7 linked regions of the Homo sapiens genome follow. The protein of the gene in region 1 purifies or fractionates together with the protein of each later gene. This does not show direct contact. Each region holds a gene or a part of one and is shown in the gene's direction. Other genes may lie near its edges. The genes, in order: SUCLA2, MAEA, GFM1, CACNA1C, MKLN1, DIRAS1 and HARS2.

Evidence for each region.
Region 2: the proteins of SUCLA2 (region 1) and MAEA purify together in Homo sapiens (affinity purification with mass spectrometry; one large-scale study listed by BioGRID and IntAct). This does not show direct contact.
Region 3: the proteins of SUCLA2 (region 1) and GFM1 purify together in Homo sapiens (affinity purification with mass spectrometry; one large-scale study listed by BioGRID and IntAct). This does not show direct contact.
Region 4: the proteins of SUCLA2 (region 1) and CACNA1C purify together in Homo sapiens (co-immunoprecipitation; one large-scale study listed by IntAct). This does not show direct contact.
Region 5: the proteins of SUCLA2 (region 1) and MKLN1 purify together in Homo sapiens (affinity purification with mass spectrometry; 2 studies listed by BioGRID and IntAct, with this or other methods). This does not show direct contact.
Region 6: the proteins of SUCLA2 (region 1) and DIRAS1 purify together in Homo sapiens (affinity purification with mass spectrometry; one large-scale study listed by BioGRID and IntAct). This does not show direct contact.
Region 7: the proteins of SUCLA2 (region 1) and HARS2 purify together in Homo sapiens (affinity purification with mass spectrometry; 2 studies listed by BioGRID and IntAct, with this or other methods). This does not show direct contact.

Annotation. Positions count from the first base shown.
Region 1 is NC_000013.11:47,987,774-47,991,273, reverse strand, and holds part of SUCLA2 (succinate--CoA ligase [ADP-forming] subunit beta, mitochondrial precursor), read left to right. Parts: intron 1-2,292; coding exon 2,293-2,392; intron 2,393-2,570; coding exon 2,571-2,733; intron 2,734-3,500. UniProt on the Homo sapiens protein: ATP-specific succinyl-CoA synthetase functions in the citric acid cycle (TCA), coupling the hydrolysis of succinyl-CoA to the synthesis of ATP and thus represents the only step of substrate-level phosphorylation in the TCA.
Region 2 is NC_000004.12:1,324,391-1,327,890, forward strand, and holds part of MAEA (E3 ubiquitin-protein transferase MAEA), read left to right. Parts: intron 1-3,236; coding exon 3,237-3,313; intron 3,314-3,500.
Region 3 is NC_000003.12:158,654,527-158,658,026, forward strand, and holds part of GFM1 (elongation factor G, mitochondrial), read left to right. Parts: intron 1-20; coding exon 21-105; intron 106-3,500. UniProt on the Homo sapiens protein: Mitochondrial GTPase that catalyzes the GTP-dependent ribosomal translocation step during translation elongation.
Region 4 is NC_000012.12:2,695,719-2,698,450, forward strand, and holds the end of CACNA1C (voltage-dependent L-type calcium channel subunit alpha-1C), read left to right. Parts: 3' UTR 1-2,232; downstream 2,233-2,732. UniProt on the Homo sapiens protein: Pore-forming, alpha-1C subunit of the voltage-gated calcium channel that gives rise to L-type calcium currents. Mediates influx of calcium ions into the cytoplasm, and thereby triggers calcium release from the sarcoplasm.
Region 5 is NC_000007.14:131,334,376-131,337,875, forward strand, and holds part of MKLN1 (muskelin), read left to right. Parts: intron 1-3,500. UniProt on the Homo sapiens protein: Component of the CTLH E3 ubiquitin-protein ligase complex that selectively accepts ubiquitin from UBE2H and mediates ubiquitination and subsequent proteasomal degradation of the transcription factor HBP1.
Region 6 is NC_000019.10:2,714,067-2,716,219, reverse strand, and holds the end of DIRAS1 (GTP-binding protein Di-Ras1), read left to right. Parts: 3' UTR 1-1,653; downstream 1,654-2,153. UniProt on the Homo sapiens protein: Displays low GTPase activity and exists predominantly in the GTP-bound form.
Region 7 is NC_000005.10:140,694,455-140,697,129, forward strand, and holds part of HARS2 (histidine--tRNA ligase, mitochondrial isoform 1 precursor), read left to right. Parts: intron 1-1,053; coding exon 1,054-1,179; intron 1,180-1,283; coding exon 1,284-1,391; intron 1,392-1,648; coding exon 1,649-1,747; intron 1,748-2,066; coding exon 2,067-2,160; intron 2,161-2,488; coding exon 2,489-2,616; intron 2,617-2,675. UniProt on the Homo sapiens protein: Mitochondrial aminoacyl-tRNA synthetase that catalyzes the ATP-dependent ligation of histidine to the 3'-end of its cognate tRNA, via the formation of an aminoacyl-adenylate intermediate (His-AMP).

The DNA of each region.
Region 1 (3,500 bases):
AGATAAAAAGTGTAGAGGGTATTATAAGGTCTTCTAGGCCATTGTAAGCACTTTGGCATTTAACTGAGTGAGACTGGCATTCAGTGCAAGGTTTTAAGTAGAGGAATGGTGTGCCTGCTTTGGCTGCTGCCTTGAGAATATTCTGTGGGGGACAAAGGTCATATAGTTAAGAGATAGTGGTGGTTGGGATCAGAGTCTAAACTGCAGGTGATGAGGAATGGTGAAGATTCTGGATAAATTTGAAGATAGAACCAGTATGATTTCCTGGCTGAATGGAAGTGGGGTTTGAGAAAGACAAGTTTTTTAAACACTCTCTTGGCTGACTACGCATAGGGTCATCATCTGGTTTAAATAGCATGTATTTCTGGTGAAGGCTTACATCAGTAATTTTCTAAATGTTCTTTTAAAATAATTGTTAATGTGTAAACTTTAGGTTGTTTTTGTTTGGTTTCAAACTCCATTTCCTACCTCATTGATTTGGTTGGTTCATCTGATTAGGTGGGAGCTTCCTCTCATTCTGCTTGATAAATGCATCGTGGAGTGACATCCTAGTTGTAGAGGACTCTACTTCAGTCTGTTCAAATCCATGTTTATGGAGTAGTTGTTATATCCCAGAGACTTCCTTGTGCTTGGGATATAATGAATACAGTGAGACCTTTAGCCCTGATCTCAAAGGTTATTTTGCCATAATGTATAGTTGGTGCCACCCTGCCAGTGTGGGCAAAATGCTATGAGAGGCAAAATGAGGAGGCTCTGAATTCTGCCTGTCTGGTACACAGAGAATGCCTTTCTAAGAGGTATTACTCTTTTTTTTTAACTGATACATAATATTTTTGTGGTACATGTTATATTTTGTTACATGCATAGAGTGTGTAATGATCAATTCAGGGCATTTAGGATACCCATCACCCAGAGCATTTACTCTTTTGAGACAGCCTTGCTCTGTCCTCCAGGCTGGAGTGCAATGGCACAATCTTGGCCCATTGCAACCTCCGCCTCCCGGATTCAAGTGATTCTTGTGCCTCAACCTCCCAAGTAGCTGGGATTACAGACATGTACCACCATGCCTGGCTAATTTTTGTATTTTTAATAGAGATGAGATTTCACCATATTGGCTAGTCTGGTCTCGAACTCCTGGCCTCATGTGACCCGCCTGCTTCAGCCTCTCAAAGGGCTGGGATTACAGGAGTGAGCCACCGCACCGGGCCCATTTACTCTTGATCATGAATGATGAGTACTATCTAGGCTAAACAGCCAGTTTGCTGGTTTTCCACAGCAAATTAGAAAGGAGAGGAAAAGGGATAAATAGTAATCAGTCTACCTGTTAAAGAAGAAAAATTCAGTCCATTTATTTAAAAATATGCATAAGCTTTGCAAGCATAGAATTCTGAAATCTTTTGATACAGATACCTTAATAACTCCTGATAGTACTACTCATGCAGTACTGCTCAATAATGTATTTTAATAGAACTTTCTCTTAGTGGGACAGTATAAATCAGTATCAATACTGGTAATGGTAATATCCCCCAAATCATGACATATTCCTGCTATAGCGATATAACTCAGATGTTCTCAGGACAGCAAGTTTACATGTGAATAGAGAGGGAGGGACGTGTTAGGAAGACATGAAATTCAATTTTGTACTTTTGATACTTTCCAGAGTTCTAGATGACACTTTCCAAAGTGTCAAGAAATGGTTAAATTATTTTCAGTTTACTTTTAAGAAATGGTTTAATGTGGCCAGGTGCGGTGGCTCATGCCTGTAATCCCAGCACTGGCTCACGCCTGTAATCCCAGCACTTTGGGAGGCCGAGGTGGGCAGATCATGAGGTCAGGAGATCGAGACCATCCTGGCTAACATGGTGAAACCCTGTCTCTACTAAAAATACAAAAAAATTAGCCAGGCATGGTGGCGGGCGCCTGTAGTCCCAGCTACTCGGGAGGCTGAGGCAGGAGAATGGCGTGAACCTGGGAGGCGGAGCTTACAGTGAGCCGAGATCGCGCCACTGCACTCCAGCCTGGGCGACAGAGCGAGACTCTGTTTCAAAAAAAAAAAAAAAGAAATGGTTTAATGTAAGTGACGAATTTTGAAAATTGTGGGCCTTTTAGACAGTGATTATTTTAGTGTTCTAATCTAGAAAATCTACATAAAGAGAATGCCTTATTTTTGGACATTGTGAATAAATTAGACTTGATTTAATAACACCTGTCAATATGTATGTTAAATAACAAAATACTATGTCTGGCATGCTGCTCCATGCTTCATATTTAATAGAAGTGTTTTTCTTCTAGGTTCAAAAGATGTCGTGATAAAGGCACAGGTTTTAGCTGGTGGTAGAGGAAAAGGAACATTTGAAAGTGGCCTCAAAGGAGGAGTGAAGATAGTTTTCTCGTAAGTCACATTTTTTAAGGAAAAATCATCCTTGTTAAAGACTGATTAAAGATTACTTATTGAATTGATGAAAATACTGAAATTTAAATATTAGATGAGATAAAATTTTGGCTATTATGTGGATTTGCTTTTTCTCAACTGGAGGAAAGAAAAATTTGAGTTCTTTTTCTTATTTTAGTCCAGAAGAAGCAAAAGCTGTTTCTTCACAAATGATTGGGAAAAAATTGTTTACCAAGCAAACGGGAGAAAAGGGCAGAATATGCAATCAAGTATTGGTCTGTGAGCGAAAATATCCCAGGAGAGAATACTACTTTGCAATAACAATGGAAAGGTCATTTCAAGTGAGTAATTGTAGACATGATACATACGGGATAAATTTATGACATTCAATTTCAAAAGTCCATTATTGTTTCTATTTATGTGGGAAAGATTTTAAAAGTACAAATTATAATCTGTTTGTATGTCATGAGCATGATATTTATGTCATTTAAAAAACAGCTTCTTTAATGCCGTAAAATTTGATATATAATATCATGATCTTAAAATTATAGGAAAAATTCTGCTGTAATAAATTTCATGGGATTCTCAAATTGTTAATTCACTAAAAGCAGCTTAAATCATCTCTGGATCATCTCCAGATTGAGAAAATTATATCTAGCATAGTAAAATATTCTAATGAAAGAGAAAGTTGCTGAACCCACTAGAAGAATGTGTATCCATTGCCTCATCTTCTGTTTTCTCAACTTCTTGGGTTTGTTTTTTTTTTTTTAATAGTTTCGGGTTTGTTTCACTATATGATTCAATATTTGGTAAATTGAGGGATGACATTAAGTAGCAAACAATATGGTTTTAAGGAGTATTACATTAGCACAGCTCTCCTCTCTTTATGGAACCTAAAATGTTGAACATAAAGCTTCTGGTGAAGAGAAAATCCCTTTATAGACCTGGTGTTTGGAAGAGAGCATTGATAATCATTTTATACTAGAATTATCTGTTTTTCGAGGGTATTAGGTTTTACAAGCTGAATCTGTGTGTTAACTAGCTTGTTTTTTGAAGCAACTGGGTATATATTTGAAAGCCCCAGTACGGATTTCATGTAGAACATTAA
Region 2 (3,500 bases), on another chromosome or scaffold:
TGCCTGGTGGATGAGTGTGTCTGGTGTTGGATGAAGTTGAGATTGGTGTTGGATGAAGTTGAGATTGGATGCCTGGTGGATGACCGTGCCTGGTGTTGGATAAAGTTGAGATTGGATGCTTGGTGGATGAGCGTGCCTGGTGTTGGATGAGTTGAGATTGGATGAGCGTGCCTGGTGTTGGATGAGTTGAGGTTGGATGAGTGTGCCTGGTGTTGGATGAGTTGAGATTGGATGAGCGTGCCTGGTGTTGGATGAGTTGAGATTGGATGCCTGGTGGATGAGTGTGTCTGGTGTTGGATGAAGTTGAGATTGGATGCCTGGTGGATGAGTGTGTCTGGTGTTGGATGAAGTTGAGATTGGATGCCTGGTGGATGAGTGTGTCTGGTGTTGGATAAAGTTGAGATTGGTGTTGGATGATTTGAGATTGGATGCCTGGTGGATGAGCGTGCCTGGTGTTGGATGAGTTGAGATTGGATGAGCGTGCCTGGTGTTGGATGAGTTGAGATTGGATGAGCGTGCCTGGTGTTGGATGAGTTGAGATTGGATGAGCGTGCCTGGTGTTGGATGAAGTCGAGACTGGACGGGGCCTGAATCCATATTTAGATGCTGTCCAGAAATGCGCCCTGAAGACTCCAAATGACACGAAAACATGCCCGGTACGAGATGCGGCCGAGCCAGTTGGGGTACACGGCTGTCTGTGCAGTCTGCTCACATGTGCACGCACGCCAGGGGGTGTGTGGGGAGGCAAGGAGGAGCCAGACTGTGCTCTAACGGGTCCCTGGGACCAGCTGTGAGAACCTAGATGGGAAAAGAAACTTGAGACCCAAGTTTGACCTGGCTGAGAGATGGATTTCACAGGCATGGGTGGGTGAGTGGCCCTGAAGGCCCCTGAAGCAGTGATTTGTTTGCTGCACGTCTGTGCGAAAGCCACACGGAGCCATCAGTGTGGGCGCCTGTCGCAGGGCGGGCACAGCCTTGTTGGCGCTCCACGCCGTATGGGACAGTGTAGACTCGGTGTTTTAGATTTGGGTCTGAATACCTAAGTTTCACGACATAGACACACTTACATATTAGTGGACCAATTGAAAGTAACCTACTAGAGCAAAAGGTGTTATTGAAAAGCAGGTTTGAGGTGTCTATTGTGTGAAGCGGTAACCTAGAGTGGGCCCAGAGTCCTGCTCTTCTAGAGCACCCCCTCGGCAGCTGCGTCCTGCCTTTAGACAGAGCCCCGGCACTCGCCTGCTCTAGACACGGCAGCCATCAGGCAGCCCCTGGGAGGCAGGTGGGGCCCTGGTGGGGAGCCTCTATCTCTTCCCGCTGGCCCTTCCCTTCCTCTCCTGCCAGGCTGGCTCTGAAGGGAGCGGAGTGCTGACCGAAGTCTGCCTGCTGATTAGTGGGGTGGGGACTCGGGACCCTGGGATGACTTTGTGCCTCTCGGCTGATTTGTACCAAGCCTGGCACTCCCCACCCAGAGCCTGTGCCACTGCTGGGGTCAGAGACAGTCCTCCTGCCCCAGCTTGGAGCAAGCCTGTGAGTTCTGCGTCCAGCCTGTTGACCCGTCTGTCTAGGGACACAGGGTGATGAGGGGCTGAGGGTACAGGGCAGAGGCAGCAGGGCAGGGACCTGAGCCCCTCTGAGCCCCTGGAAGGCAGGTGGCCCCCGGGGGTCTGGGCAGCCCAGTCCTCCCCACACCCACGCGGAGCCACTGCTGTGGGTGCTATGCGTGTCGGGGCAGCAAGGCTGGCAGGCGGGGTGGGCTGGAGCACAGGTGGCTCCTCAGAAAGCTCAGTGGGGAAAGCTCTGGGAAGCGGAAGTGATGAGCTTCAACTTAAATGCAGTGGTCCGGGGTGGATTCATCTGCCACGTGGAGTTTCTGTTCATGCCGTCCTGAGAGCCAGGCCATGTGAACCCAGAGTGACACGCGGCCCCAGCCCAAGACTCGCTCCGTGGTGCCCACGCCTATATCCTGTTTCCGGGGTGAAGCCCTGAGAATGTCCTGAAACCACACGGAAGATCTTACGGTTTAGACGGACATGTCACTTCCGTAGAATCCGCGTCTCATCTTGGATGACTGCGGTCAATGTTGCCGCTGCCCCCACCCCAGCCACAAGTCTCGGCCCACGTTGGACTGAGGTTGCTGAGATTTCAGATTGAGGGTTGGGCTTCCCTTAGGTGCACGTGAGAGGCTCATAGGCAGACACATGTGGGACTTGGTCCTGCAGGAGCTTCCCCCACCCCCGCCCCTGCCTCAGGCATAGTGCCTTCAGCCAGCAGCCCCAACTCGGCCTCTCTCCGTCTTCTACACATCCTGGAAGCGCCCTCCCTTCACGCGAGCCGCCCCTTGGCCTCACAGCCACCTAGGACCTCAGTGTCCCCTGGGCCAGGCCTCCATTCCATGTGCCACCCGCCTGGGGCCTCGGCACCGGCCCCGGCTTCTGCCCGCCATGTTCTCGCCAGGTGTCTGTGCGGTCCCCCGTCCATAACCTCGGTGCAGGCGCTCCCCGCCCTACCGACCTGGGTCCTGCCTGCTGCAAGCTTGCTTCTCTGCCTCATGCCCCTGTGAGGCACCAGCCAGCAACCCCACATGTGGTCCCTGTCTCCTCCCCGCCCTGCCGACCTGGGTCCTGCCTGCTCCAAGCTTGCTTCTCTGCCTCATGCCCCTGTGAGGCACCAGCCAGCAGCCCCACATGTGGTCCCTGTCTCCTCCCCACCCGGGGCATCAGCGCCTCGGGACAGGACTTGCCCACGTTCTCCCAGAACAGCCCCGGGTTCAAGCCAGCACCCAGTCTACATTCGGGATAGTTGGGTCCAGAGGCCCGGTGGGAGTGTAGAGGAAGCAGTGGCCTCAGGGCGGGACCCAGGAAGCTGCTTTGTCCTTGCAGAGGGGTTGGTGCCTTTGCTCCAGCAGCTGCACCTGCTGCTCTGCCCTCCCAGCTGTGCTCCTGGAAGCGCCCTGAGCGCCCTGGCCTTCGGGTTGAAATGCTGGGCGGCTGCACGCCCCACCGCAGCTGCAGGAGCAGGGGGCGGGACTCACATTCAGAACCCAGTGTTCCCTGGAAAGTCTGCTGCAGGTTAAAGTGGCAGCTTCAGCCTCAGCCCTGCCTTCCCCGTGCCTGTGAGAGAGGGGTTCAGAGCTTTGGTTGTGGGGTCTGCTGGTGGACATGCGGGTGCGGCACCCGGGCACCTGGGCTCTGTGGGATGTGCTGTCTAAGCCCTCGTCTTGTCTTTGCCCTCAGAGCTGCCTGGAGTTCAGCCTCAGAATCCAGGAGTTCATTGAACTCATCCGGCAGAATAAGAGACTGGACGCTGTGAGGTAGGCATTGCGGACGTGCGTCTCCTCGAGGGAGGGCAGGATGTTCGGCTGCGGCCCCTGCCAGCCCTCCCTGTCGTGGTCTGGGTCCTGGGACGTCCCCTGGGTCGTCCCCTGGGTCTTGAGTCTGACCCCTGCCTGCTCAGGTGGCTGCTTCTCCCACTGTTCCTGAATGGGACTTGGGGAGTGA
Region 3 (3,500 bases), on another chromosome or scaffold:
TATATTTCTTTTATTTTAAGTGACTCAAAAGAGAAAACCAAAATCCTAATGAACTCCAGTAGAGACAATTCCCACCCATTTGTAGGCCTGGCTTTTAAACTGGAGGTAAGTTGCTTTCTAATGTATTTAACTGCTATCTGTAGAATGTTTTTACTTCTAGGCTTTATTCCTATTACAGAATGACTCTGACTTTTATGAAAGATTTGGAAAATAGGAAAGTAGAAAGAGCAGGTAGAGAATTTCCAAAGCTCTGACATGATAGTTCTTTTGTTATTAGGTGCATTTCTTTCTAGTCTCTTCTCTTTGCCTGAAGAGTGTAAATTTTTACCTAAATCATACTACCTGTATAGTTTTGTCCTGCTCTTTTTATTTAATGTCACAGTAGATAATGGTCCATGTTTCTATAAATAGTTTAAGCATTTTAAATAGTAGCATAACAGTGCATCAAGTAGATACACCAAAATTTGCTTAAAATTTCCTAATTGTTAGATGTTTATATTGTTTCCAGGTTTCTACTGTTATAAATAACATTGGGTCCATTTCTAGAAATATGTCCTAAGGAACTAATGAAGGGTAGCGAATTAATGTTAGCTTCAGCTCACCTTATAAAACCAAAATCTCGCAAACAATTGAAAATGCCCAGCCAGTCGCAGTGGTTCACACCTGTAATCCCAGCACTTTGGGAGGCTGAGGCGGGCAGATCAGAAGGTCAGGAGTGGGAGGCCAAGGCGGGCGGATCACAAGGTCAGGAGTTCGAGACCAGCCTAGCCAACATGGTGAAACCCTGTCTATACTAAAAGTACAAAAATTAGCTGAGTATGGTGGCGGACACCTGTAATCCCAGCTACTCAGGACGCTGAGGCAGGAGAATTGCTTGAACCTGGGAGGTGGAGGTTGCAGTGAGCCGAGATCGCACCACTGCACTCCAGCCTGGGCGACAGAGCAAGACTTCATCTCGGAAAAAAAAAAAAAGAAAATGCCCAGTAATTACAATTTGATAAATAAACTGAGGTACATTCTTATAGTACAACATTATTCAGACTTTAAAAATTATGTTGAAATGCCTATTTTTGACATGAAAAGATGTTTATGATTTAAAAAGAAACAAACTTACTTATTTTAGAATATTTTAAAGAAAAGTTATGAAGATAGTCCAGAGAATTCCTGTATATCCTGCACCCAGTTTCCTCTATTGTTAATACACACTGTCACAACTAATGGGCCAATACTGATATATTATTATTAACTAAAATCCTTACTTCATTTGAATTTCTTTAGTTTTTGTCTAGGTCCTTTTTCCGTCTCACTAGACAGAAGGACCACAGAAGGCCCATCCAGAGGACCACGTTATATTTGATTGTCATGTCTCCTTATGATCTCCTAGGCTGTAATAGTTTCTTAGACTTTCCTTGTTTCTCACGAGATTGATATTTTTGAGAAGTATTGGTCAGCTCTTTTGTAGAGTGTCCCTCAATTTGGGTTTATTATTTGATGCTTTTCACATGATTAGATTGGAGTCATGTGTTTTTAGGAGGACTGCCATCGAGGTGAAGTGTTATTCTTGTCACATCATATCCAAGGTACAGACTTGCAGCATGATTTATCATTGTTTTTGTTTTTTTTTGTTTTTATTTTTATTTTTTTGAGATGAGATTTCGCTCTTGTTGCCCAGGCTGGAGTGCAATGGCACAATCTCGGCTCGCTGCAGCCTCCACCTCCCAGGTTCAAGCGAGTCTCCTGCCTCAGCCTCCCAAGTAGCTGGGATTACAGGCATGCGCCACCACGCCCAGCTAATTTTGTATTTTTAGTAGAGACATAGTTTCTCCCTGTTGGTCAGGCCGGTCTCGAACTCCTGACCTCAGGTGATCCGAGTGTCTTGGCCTCCCAAAGTGCTGGGATTACAGGCATGAGCCACCGCACCCGGCTGATTTATCATTGTTAATGCTAACCTCAATCACCACACCTGGCTGAGATAGTGTTTGACAGGTTTCTCTGCTGTAAAGTTACTGTACTCTTTTTATTCCCCTTTTCATAGTGTACTTTTTAGAAGGAAGTCACTTGGCTCAGCCAACACTTGAGGGGGGAATTATGTTCCACCCCCTTGAAGGGGGCACTATCTACATAAGTTATTTGGAATTCTTCTGAAAGGGAGATTTGTCTTTCTTCCCTGCTTATTTATCTATTTGGACAATCACTTATTTAATATCAGCGTGGACTCACGTATATGTATTTTGAACTTTGAGTTATAACTATGACTTTGAGTATGTCATTTGTTGTTCAGATTGGCTGGGTTTGGCGATTGGGAACTCTCAGTTGGCTCCTGTGTTCCTTTAACATCTTCCAATGTTTTGCCTTTTTGAATACTTCCTTACTTGCTGGCACTACAAGACGCCTCAGGCTTATCTTGTATATTCCATGCCCTAACCCTAGAATCAGCCGTTCTCCAAGGAGCACTGGTTCCTTTTTAAGTAAAATGGTATTAGAAACCAAGATTTGGGGACTGGATGGGCTTTTTGTTGAAATGCTGTTGCTTCTGTACATAATATTTTAAGTGGGGAAAAATGGTAGATAAGTTGGAAGTGTTAAGAGTGGTTATTTCTGGGATGGGATTATATTTTGGGGGCTTTTTCTTACTTTAAAAATATTTTACAGTATATTTATTACCTCCAAAATGAGGGGAAAATTTTTTTAATTAAAAAGTGGAAATAACATTACAGTAAAAGTATTTACACATAAAGCTTTTAAAAATACATATATAAGAATATTTTCTTAGGATTCCCAGAATAGTGATTATTGAGTTAAAGGCATAGAATGTTTTCATAGTTAATGGTTTATATTGCCAGATTGCGTTCATACTCTCCAAATTAATGTATTGGATTATTTCAATGAATATCATCATTGAGTATTGTTTAAAAATCATTACTGATTTAACAAATGAAGAATTCTATTGTAATCTTTTATCTTGATGAAATAAATTTTGATTTTTAAAAGCAATCAGTGCTTTAAAGTTTGTATAGTCGAATATGTCAGTCTTTCTGTTTAGTCATTCATTAATTTTTAACCTTAGCAACCTTTTATTTGTATATATTTTGTTAATATTTACTTTCGTTCCTTCTACTTCTTTATGTTTTTTTTCTTTCCCCATCATTAATTCAACTGGAATTTGTTTTAGTGGGTAGGATCTAAATGTATCTCCTCTGCCTCCAAATAGAGTATCAGTTGTCCAGTTAGTACTTTATGCACAATCCTTTCTTCCTTTTCCATTGATTTGTCATGTTTCTTTATCATCTATTGACAAATATATTTTATACTTTAGATTTTTATACTGTACTCTGTGGGGTGTTTAGTCTAATTTGTGCTGGTTCTGAATTTTCTGAGTTTCAAGCATTTTAATATGTTTTTATATCTGTCAGGGTTAGTTTTATCTTATTACCATAGTTTTTGAAAAATTTCTGTTTTTACCTATTTATTCCTCTGAATGAATTTTAAAATCACTAATC
Region 4 (2,732 bases), on another chromosome or scaffold:
CCATGGGCAGATGCTTACACGACCTCTTTGTGAAGCCTCTTCTGGGTTTAACTTCATTCATCAATTTATTCTTATGTCAAAGCAATGAAACTTTTCTTTCTGGAGCCAGATACCAATACAACAGGTGAACGGGTTTCTGCCACATCTCTACATTGACGGGGGATGCTTGAACAACCCCCCTCACTACACAGACACACACCGTTAAGGCACAAGGGCTGGGGTTGAGCTCTAGATGAGGGACTTTCCTGCTCCTGCAAGGGTGAGCACTGTATACACAGACAAGGAGGGTGCAGTAGAGTGACTCCCTTGGATGGAAGTAGTACCATCAGAACCTACTATTATTATGACATAAATTCTATTTACATACATTGAGAGAATACTACAATCAACACTTTTTCCTGGGATGACTTTAAGAGGTTTGAGCCACAGCACCTGAAGTGGCAAAGATCCATGGTCTTTGTAGGGTATTAGAGAACTCTTCCAGTCACCTCTGAAAGCACTCTAGATCTTGCAGCTGAGTGGATGAAGTGTAACAAATCTGTTGCACGCTGAGAGGAGTCAGAATTAGCATTTTTCATGAAAGTTCCCCACGTCTCTACTAAGAATGAGGAAGAAAAGACTAAGACTAGGTAATTACACAGAGGCTTGAAATGTTACATCACCAGAGCCAAGTCCTCTCCCTTCAGATCAGTTACTGGCTGCTACACAGGGACACCCCCACCTTTTCAGGGCATCCCATGCACTCCACTTCTCAGGATCTAAGGAATTTGACTTTGTAGGGATCCCAGAAAGGGCACTGTGCCACTTCCCCTGGTGTGAATCAGACATACATTGTACATTCATTTCTAAAATTCACTCATGCACCTCAAACCAAGGTCATTATCCAAAAAAAAAAAAAAAAAGCTCTGGGTGGAAGAGTTTGTAAGTTTTAAGAGAGGGTCATTTCTATGTGAGGAAATGCAGAAATGGACAGAATGATTCTTATTCACTGTTTGGGTCTGGAGAATTCCCATTGTGGAAATCTTAGAGATCTCAAGTTTATTACCAAGGGAATAAGGAAAAAAAGGTGAGCAGGCACCAGGCCAAGCAGTGGCTCCCTTGCCAAGGAACCTGAGGCTGCAGGTTTCAGGGACCCCCTTGAAGAAACCTCTCCTGGCCATTGGCCAGGAGAAAAGAGAAGTCTCTCCTGTAGAGTCACAAGAGAAGCAAAAGAGGGTGGGTCACTGGGTCCTGGACATAGCCCCCAACCCCAAGACTTCCCAATATGGAGAAACTACACCAATGTTTAAAAGGGGAAAAGGAAAGAACTTGTACATCAAGGGAAGATGATTTGTAAACACACAGTCCTGTGCAGAAAGATCCCCTTCAGGAGGTGTCTCCAGCATCCCAAAGCTGTGCGCACCTTCTCTTTTCCTGCCTCAGGCCACCTATGCATCCAGCTGCAGCCCATACCCACACCTGAAATCCATCTCTTGAATCCCAGCCAGGTTATATACCACCCCATTGCCATGTCCTGTCCTGGCCAGAATGCATGCTGTTCCCCCAAGCCTCGTGGGAGTGAGGCCATGGGAAACAGAGATGAGCATGTCTGGACAAGTCTGTGATGGTAGTGGATGAGAATAACCCATGGCAAAACACGCACATTCATTAAGAAATAGGGCGACAGATTCCCCGTTGGTGAAGCACTGAAAGGTCTATTACTCTCATAATATTGCTGTTTTATTTTAATCCACCAGAGCTACCATGCAAAACTTTCCTCCTGTGAAACGCTCCAGATAAAGCTCCTCTAATCTCCCCTTCCCTCATGTCCTCCAGCTCAAACCCACCTTCATCCCCCAAACCAATCTGTATCATGCCTGTTATCAGAGAGGCACAGAAAGATGGGCAGTGCCTCCGTTGTCACCATTCCCCACACCCCTACACACCCCCACACCCTCCCCTCCAGGCTCCACGACTTCACAGTCTTACTGTTGTAAATATCATTGTACAGTTTGTAATCCTCAAATAATCCCATTGTCAGAGGCCTCGCCTGATGGGCCTTCTCACCCTCGAGAAAGGCCAGGGAATCTAGAAGGGGCAACCCTTCAAGGAGAGCTTCAGGGTCATCTCTGTGTGAGACACTATTGTATATTCCTGTAAGATTGCATTTTTATCTAAGGAATGATGTTATTTAAAAAACAAACAAAAAACACAAAAAATAAGAATTGCAAATAAATTTCTTAACAATGTCTACATTGACTTCATTGTATCTTCCCTCTTCCTTATTTCTTCCTTTCTCCTGTTTCCTAGAGGTCACAAATACAAACTTCACTCAGTTATCTCAACTGTCTGGGATCCCCAAAAGGAAGAAGACTGGAGAGAACACAGGAAATATGAATCCAATGATAATACCTAAGTCCATTCAGCAGTTAACCCATCCCCTATTTCTTCCTTCTCATGAAAGAGTTGACAGAAAAATGGCCAAAAGTTAAAAAGGAGACAAAATCAGAGGAATTAAATGGCTAATTCACATGGATTAGACAGGAAAAGCAGTCTCTGAAATTGGTTTTGAAAGGACAGAAGGGAAGAGGGATGGAATGTAGGAGAGAAGAAAGGAGGGGGAGATATGATAATATATAAAGTACTATGAGGACTATACAAATGTAAGATTGCTTTTCTTTTTTTTTGTTATTATAACTTAATCTGATTTCGATAAACCTTTCAGAATAACCCCTTAAGTAAAAATAATTTGT
Region 5 (3,500 bases), on another chromosome or scaffold:
TGTGTTTTTCAGTCTGGGACTCTTAGAACTTCAGAAAAATAAAAACACTCAAGATGGAAGAAATGTACTCAGGATGAGAATTTGAGTCTACAGAGCTGATTCCTAGAATTAGATATTTGTGACTTTTGGCAAGTTATGATTCTTTTCTGAGCGTCAGTTTCTTGTGTAGAAATACTTTTTATCTTGATCAAATGTTGAGAGGTTTATGTACAATTTTTTGGGCACATGGGTAAATGGTTCTATTATTTGCGTTAACTTTTAGGTAAATATTTAAATAGATTTTTAATAAATGATTTTTGGCCTGATACAAAGACTTTGTGATGTTTTACGTGTAGATAAGATACATTTCAGCCACTTGTGGCAATGAGTTTGCTGTATTTCAGTCATTCAAAAATCGTTTTTGGAAATATGAAAGATTTTCTAGACTTTAATTTTAGAGATACAGCTATTTATAGACATTTTAATATGTATAAAATGTTTCAAAGAATGTACAGTTGAGAATTTAGAGATCCCTAATTACTGTTTGTTTATAATACCATTTGTCAGAAATCTCTGATAAGAGACAATAGAAAATTTATAAAATTTCTAGGTCTTTATAGGTTCAATCTTAGGATAGTTGATCCGGGTATCTTCTCTGCTACCGGATTTCCCAGGGCTTGTTTTGTGAATGGCTGGTTCTGTAGATTGTTGCTTATTAAGGGGTGGTCAGATAAAGCTCTGAGAAGTCCAGCAGTATTAAAATCTATTAATATGGGGGACTTTTGAAGAAAATATTTTTTAACATCTTTGCACATTGGGAAGATGTTTCAGTTAGAAAATTTTTTTGTTGTTGTTTAATGAGAACTTCAGGACTTGGTTACGAATATTTCTAAAAATCTGTGAAGTCAAAGTAACATTCTGTAGAATACTGTGTATGTATATTTATGCTGTAGATAAACAAAGATATTGTTTGTTTAATGGGTTTTGCTTATGATGAAATTTTACTGATTAAGATTAATCCATGTTTAAAAAAGTATACAAAGAGAAAGGAAATATCATAGTCATTATCTAGGAATAATTTAAGTAGTCTAATATAAATCTGTCCCTAAAAAAGTTGTTGAATGGCAGCTAACTAGATTGAAGTACCCTAACATAACTTATATTTTGAATTGGTTGTTAATAATAATTGGAAAACTAGGCTATGTTTAGTCCTAAGACTATAGGGTTTCCTCTCAACACATTTTAGCTGTATCCCACAAATTGTGGTATGTTACATGTTCATTATCATTTATGCAAAAATGTTTTTCAGATTTTATTTTGGCTTATTCTTTGACCTGTAGGTTTTTTTTTTTTTTTAACAAATGTATTGCTTACTTTTTGAACGTTTGGGGATTTGCTAGTTATCTTTCTGTTACTAATTTCTTAATTTCACTATGATTAGAGAACACACTCTGAATAGTTTCAGACCTTTATTGATACTTATTTTATGGCTCAGCATTTTTATAAATGTTTATGTACCCTTGAAAAGACTATGCATTCTGCTGTTAACTACTGTCTTCTATGTACTTTGTTAAGTTCAAGTTTGTAAATTGTGTTATTGTGTTGTACAAATCTTCTCTATCCTTACTGAATTTTTTTTTTTTTGCCTTTTTTTCTATTCATTACAGAGAGAGGTGTCTTGAGGTTAAGTGTCAAATGTGTCTTACTGTGATTGTGGATTTGTATATTTCTCCTTTTAGTTCTATAAAGAACTAAACTGTATGCTTTATGTATTTTGAAGTCATATTACTAGGCACATACAAACTTATCTTTCTAGTACATTGGCTCTTTATCATTATAACATGTCCCTTTTTATCTCTAGTAACACTTGTCTCTCGCCTCAAAGTCTTCTTAGCTACACCTGCTTTATTTTGGCTGCTGTTTGCTTGCATGGTAAAACTTTCTCTCTCCTTTTTGCTTTTAATGCTCCTGTAGCTTTATATTTGGGGTCTGTTTCTTGTTAAGAATAAACAGATTTTTGTTTGCCTGTTTTTAATTAAATCTGAAATATATTTAGCTCATTAATGGTAAATATAATTATTGATAAATTTGGGTTTATGTCTGTCATTTTATTGTTTTCTGTTTGTCCTACTTGTTCTATATTCTATTTTCTCTCCATTGTTGCCTTCTTTTGGATTAATCAAGTGTTTTAAAAATATTATTTTATTCCTCCCTTTGTTAGCTTGTTAGTTATATATTCTGTTACTGTTCTTTTGGTGGTTACGCTAGATCACCACAAGCTTTCTTGTGGTACATTAGAGTTGCATATTCATTAGGATTTTGAAAAACAACATCTCAGACATTGTTAGGACCCTAGAAAACTTTAATAGCATTTATCACTCTCCTGCTTTTATGTTGTCATTGTCATGCATTTCACGTCTACATTTAAATCCAGAGACTGTTGTTTTGTACAGTTAATATTTACCCTTTCCATTGTTCTTTATTTCCTTTTGTATTTACATGCTTCCATCTGAGATTAATTTTCCTCTGTCTGAAGAACTCCTTTTAGGGAGTTTGGTGGTACTGAATTCTCAGTTTTTGCTTGTTTGAAATTTATTTATTTTCATCTTTGAAGAATATATTAAATGACTGTACAGTTCTACATTATTAGCTGTTATTTTCTTGAAGCACTTTAAAGATCTCAGTTCATTGTCTTCTAGCTTCCATTGTTTCTGTTGCAAAATCAGCCGTCAGACTTACTGTTGCTTCTTGGAAGGTAGTATGACTTTCTTGTTCAGCTGCCTTTCTTTTTGTCATTCTCTTTTTCTTTAAGTTTAAACAGCTTTCAGTGATGCACCTAAGAATGGTTTTGTTTGTACCCTGTTTGGCGTTTCTGGCACCTCTTGAATTTGTAGTATGACTGATCAGCTGTGAAAAAATTTTGACTTTTTAAAAATATTGTTTCTGCCCCATTTTTGTCTCCTTTGCTCTGTGACTCCAATTAAATCTTTATTATACTTTTTATCCCCCATATGTCTCCTGCTCTCTTCTGTTATTTTTATGATTTTTTTCCTCCTCTTATCCGTTCTGGATAGTTTTTACTTGACTGTATTTCAGTTCACTTATTCTGAATTTAACTATGTCCAATCTGCTTTTTAACCCCATCTATTCTTAATTTTAGTTATAGTATTTTTTAGTTTTAGAATTATTTCATCCTCTCTTTTTAAGATAGATTCTAATTATGTGAAAATCTCTTGTCATGTATTTTTTGAGCATATTAATCAAATTGCTTTAAAGTCTGTGTCTGAAAACTTCAATATCTGTATCACCTATAGGCCTATTTCCATCATCTCTTTCCTTTTGATTTTGCATCTTGTTAGGCCAAATAATAATAATAGTTAATATATTTGTATATTAATGTATGTTAATTATATATTCTATTGTATATTATATAAATTATTACATGTGGATAATAACATAATAGTAATAATTATTATTAGGCAATTTTTTGATGGAGTGCCAGACATTATATGCAGAATTTT
Region 6 (2,153 bases), on another chromosome or scaffold:
GGAAGGTGGCGTCCTGGAGTCGAGTGTACCTGCAGCCATGAGGTTCTGGGTGTTTTTTGAGAGAGTCTGAGTGACACCACACTCGTGTGACCCCACAGGGTTGTGTCCAACATACACGGAAGTGGCTATGGAATGGTGTATTTGTGCAACCTGGGGTGCGCGGATGGGTGACTTGTATCTAAGTGCATCTGCGTGTATACCTGTGTGTGTCTGTCTGGGATGATATGTTTTTGTGGCAGTCTGTGTGTGTAATAGTGGTGTAGGGTATACAGAGAGGTGGGTAGTTGTAGATACCTGTGTGTGGTTGTCAGCAAGACTGGATATGTGTGAGGTGTCTGTGTGAATCTTTGTGCCTGTATGAGCATGACTATATTTTGGGGAGTGGGTGATATGGTTTATCTGAGAGCATTTATCTGTAAATATGTTTGTCCTGATTGAGGGACACGATCTGTGTTCCACTCTATAGCAACATGACTCTAGCAATGTGACTTTCGGTTCCAAATCTGTATCAGTCAGCTACTGCTGTGTAACAAATGACCACAAATGTAGCAACCAGAAACAACACATGCTTATTATCTCATAGATTCTGTGGGTCAAGAGCCTGGGTGCAGGTTGGCTGGGTCCTCTACTTGGGATCTCAGGAGGCTGCAATCAAAGCATTCGCCAGGCAGAGGTCTCATCTGAAGGCCTGATCGGGGAAGGATTTGCTTCTTAGAAGCTCATGTGGTTGTTGCAGCATTCAGTTCCTTGCTGTTGCAAGACTGAAGGCCTCAGTTCCTCGCTGGCTGTTGGCTGGAAGCTGCCCTTTGTTCTGTACCATGTGGGTCTCTCCACAGCGGGGCTCGGAGCATGGCAGCTAAGTTAGTGAGGGAAGGTGAGATGGAGGTTTTGGTCTTATTGGGTGTGAGGAAGCAACGTGTGTGTGTGCGCACGCCCTTTTGTGCAGTGAGAGAGAGAGAGAGATTGCACACATGTGTCTCTGTAGTCATGTGGCCAGGTGGGACTATGTAGGTAACAGATTGCTCGTGTCTGATTTGGTACAAGCATGTTTGTTTTCCTCTGTGTTCGTGTGAGTGTTTACTCAACAAATGTTTATTGGACACACTCAGAGAGAGGGAGTGTGCACACGTGCGTGTGTGTTGCTATCCAGCACGTGGACCGGGCTCCCAGAAGAGCTGGCATTGTGTCTGAGCAGAGCTGGGTCCCCCCAAAACTTGGGCTGGCCCAGGGCCCACCAGCAGCTGATGTTGCCTCCTCTCCTGTCCTGGCAGTAGCTTCTGGGTTCTGAAGGTGCCGGAGAGAGTGAGGCTGGGCAGGGGTCTGCGGCCCTTTCTCAGGGACACACCCTGATAGCACAATCTCCTTGGGGCCCTGCCCACCTCCAGGCCTCTCCCACCTCAGGCCCTGCCCGACCCTGGGGAGAGAGGGCATCTGCAATAGGAGGGGACCCGAGCCTGTCCTGGCTGCTGGCCCATCCTGCCTGGGCATCCCTGGTGCTGGGGACTGTGCCAGGCCATGCTTGCTGTGACTCCGCCCCTGCCCCCTCTCCCCCCGCATGTGGGTGCCCCCACTCCCCCATCGTGGGGTCTGTGTAGCCTTCGCTCTAGACATAGTCTTCCTGCAATAAAAAAGTGGATCCTGCATTCCCCACCAGCATGGCGCCCTGTCTCTGTGGTGGGCGTGGGGTGTCAGCTCACCGCCTGTAAAGGATCAAGAAGGGTGGGGAGGTGCAGGATGGGGTGAAGGGTGAAGGAGGTGATGGGTGTAGGAAGTGAGGGATGGGATGAAGGGTGGAGGAGGTGATGGGTGTAGGAAGTGAGGGATGGGATGAAGGGTGGAGGAGGTGATGGGTGTAGGAAGTGAGGGATGGGATGAAGGGTGGAGGAGGTGGTGGGTGGAGGAAGTGAGGGATGGGGTGAAGGGTTGAGAAGGTGGTGGGTGTAGGAAGTGAGGGATGGGATGAAGGGTGGAGGAGGTGACGGGTGTAGGAAGTGAGGGATGGGGTGAAGGGTGGAGGAGGTGGTGGGTGTAGGAAGTGAGGGATGGGATGAAGGGTGGAGGAAGTGGTGGGTGTAGGAAGTGAGGGATGGTGTGAAGGGTGGAGGAGGTGATGGGTGTAGGAAGTGAGGGATGGGGTGAAGGGTGGAGGAGGT
Region 7 (2,675 bases), on another chromosome or scaffold:
CTAGTGTGTATCATAATCCTTTGGGGGAGCTTGCAGAAGCACAGACATTTGGCTGCAGTCCCAGAGATTCTTAGCTAATTCTGTAGCTGGAATGGGGCTCAATAATTTGTATTAAAAAATTGTTTTTTTTGGCCAGACACGTGGCTCACGCCTGTAATCCAAGCCCTTTGGGAGGCTGAGGCAGGTGGATCACCTGAGGTCAGGAGTTCAAGACCAGCCTGGCCAATATAGTGAAACCCCATCTCTACTCAGCTCCTGCTGAGCTCTGGGGCTCTCAGGTTCTGAGTCTAGTTTGGGACTGACTGTCACCTTGTCTCCACAGATCTCTTTTGACGTAAAAAGTTAGCTGGCTGTGGTGGCAGGTGCCTGTAATCCCAGCTACTAGGGAGGCTGAGGCAGGAGAATCACTTGAACCCAGGAGGCAGAGGTTGCAGTGAGCCGAGATTGCGCCATTGCACTCCAGCCTGGGTGACAAGAGCAAAACTCTGTCTCAAAAAAAAAATTTTTTTTGTGGAGATGGGTGTCTTTGTTGCCCAGGCTGGTTGTAAACTCATCGTTTCAAGTGATCCTCCCATCTTGGCCTCCTAAAGTGCTGGGGTTACGGGTGTGAGCCACTGCATCTGGCCTACAGTCTGCATTTTAAACAAGCATCGTGGGTAATTAAGATGCATGTAGTCCTTTCCCTGCACTTTCAGAACCAGTAGCTTAGAAGTTGTTAGGCAAATCCAAGTTCTGAAGCTTGACTATTTTGAGATGGTTCGGAATCGATCTGAATGGGCAGAAAGACCTGAAGTTAGTTCTTGGGTCACTTCTATCTCTACTTGCCTTGCTTTCTGCTGAACTTTTAGTTTTGCTAGGTGAGATTCCTTCATTTGACACTATTCAATATATATTGAATTCCAAGCACTGCTAGGCCTTGGGGATAGTGGAAAAAAGGGAAGGTCCTTGTTCTTACCCTAGTGGATGAGATCCAGGCCCAGTCCTCCCTAATGTCTGTATACTGGGCCTAATCTTTGGATGCAGTATCCCTCTTCCTTAACCCATTTATGTGAGGTTCCCTTTGCTCGTTATCTGGCCATGAATAAGGTGAAGAAGATGAAACGTTATCATGTTGGAAAGGTGTGGCGGCGAGAGAGCCCAACCATAGTCCAAGGCCGTTATAGGGAGTTCTGCCAGTGTGTAAGTGACCTGATGGGAGCAGCACAGTTTGATAGTTCTAGGGGCCACAACCTTGAAACTGGCTGGATAATGGATGTTTTTTCCCATCTTTTTCTTTGCTGTAGGATTTTGACATTGCTGGTCAGTTTGACCCTATGATCCCCGATGCAGAGTGTTTGAAGATCATGTGTGAAATCCTAAGTGGATTGCAGTTGGGAGACTTTCTCATTAAGGTGAGGCCAGGGCTGAGAACTGTGGGAGAAGTCTGGATTTGGCCTAATACTGTTTATGCAAGTCCCAAACTTGGGTGACTCCAACCCTTAAGCCTGCAACTGTAGGACTTTCCTAGTAAAGCTGTTGTATTTCCTATATGTCTGTACTCTTCCTGTGAAATTTCCATCCTTTTTGTGTGTCAGGAAAGTAGGTACTGCCATTGTTTTGAGTGGAAGGGCATTGACAAGCACTTGGGTCACTGACATTGAGTTCTCAGGTAAATGACCGGCGGATTGTGGATGGGATGTTTGCTGTCTGTGGTGTTCCTGAAAGCAAGTTCCGTGCCATCTGCTCCTCCATAGATAAACTAGACAAGGTAACAAAGAAGACATACTTCAGTAGACCCTATCTAGCTTCTGCCCTGCCCTCAAATCCATACCACTAGTGAAAAATAAGGAGATTGTGGCTGGAAGTGGGCTATTTTGGGGTGGAAGGTAAGGAGGCATACTCTGAAGGAAGATCTGAGTCATGCTATACAGTGGGGATTGTGACTGGATTTCTTAAGCTGTCTCTGACTTTGCTGAGTATACAGTTAGCTACTTGTGATGTATATACTGAATGGAAGTTGAGTTGTCCTTTTTCAGTTTGAGAAAGAAAGATCTTGGGGCTGGGCTAATGTTTGGGTGTTTATGCAGATGGCTTGGAAAGATGTGAGACATGAGATGGTGGTGAAGAAAGGCCTGGCTCCTGAGGTGGCTGATCGAATTGGGGACTATGTCCAGTGTCATGGTAAGAACCAGGGTTTTCAGAGCTGTGATAGAACCAGGCTGAAGGTGACATGTGCTCAAATTCTACCTCTGAAACAACTCTTTTCTGTAGATATGCTAAGCTCCAGGGCCTGTCCTGAATTTAATTTCTCTTTTACTTATTGTAACGACTTTGTGTCTTCAGATGGCAAAGCTAGAGGCAAAGGAGGAGGGTCTTGTCATGTGAGACTGGGATCTTTTTTTTTTTTTTTTTTTTTTAAAGAAAATGAGGAAGACTAGCTAGAGCACATTAGGGATAATTTTGAATGAAACACATGTGAGTGAACAGCAGAGACTTTATTTCTCTCCAGGTGGGGTATCCCTAGTAGAGCAAATGTTTCAGGATCCCAGACTATCCCAGAACAAGCAGGCCCTGGAGGGCCTGGGAGACCTAAAGCTGCTATTTGAATACCTGACTTTATTTGGAATTGCTGATAAGGTAAGCTGAATTGCAAATGGACCTCCTGCTGAGCTCTAGGGCTCTCAGGGTCCCGAGTC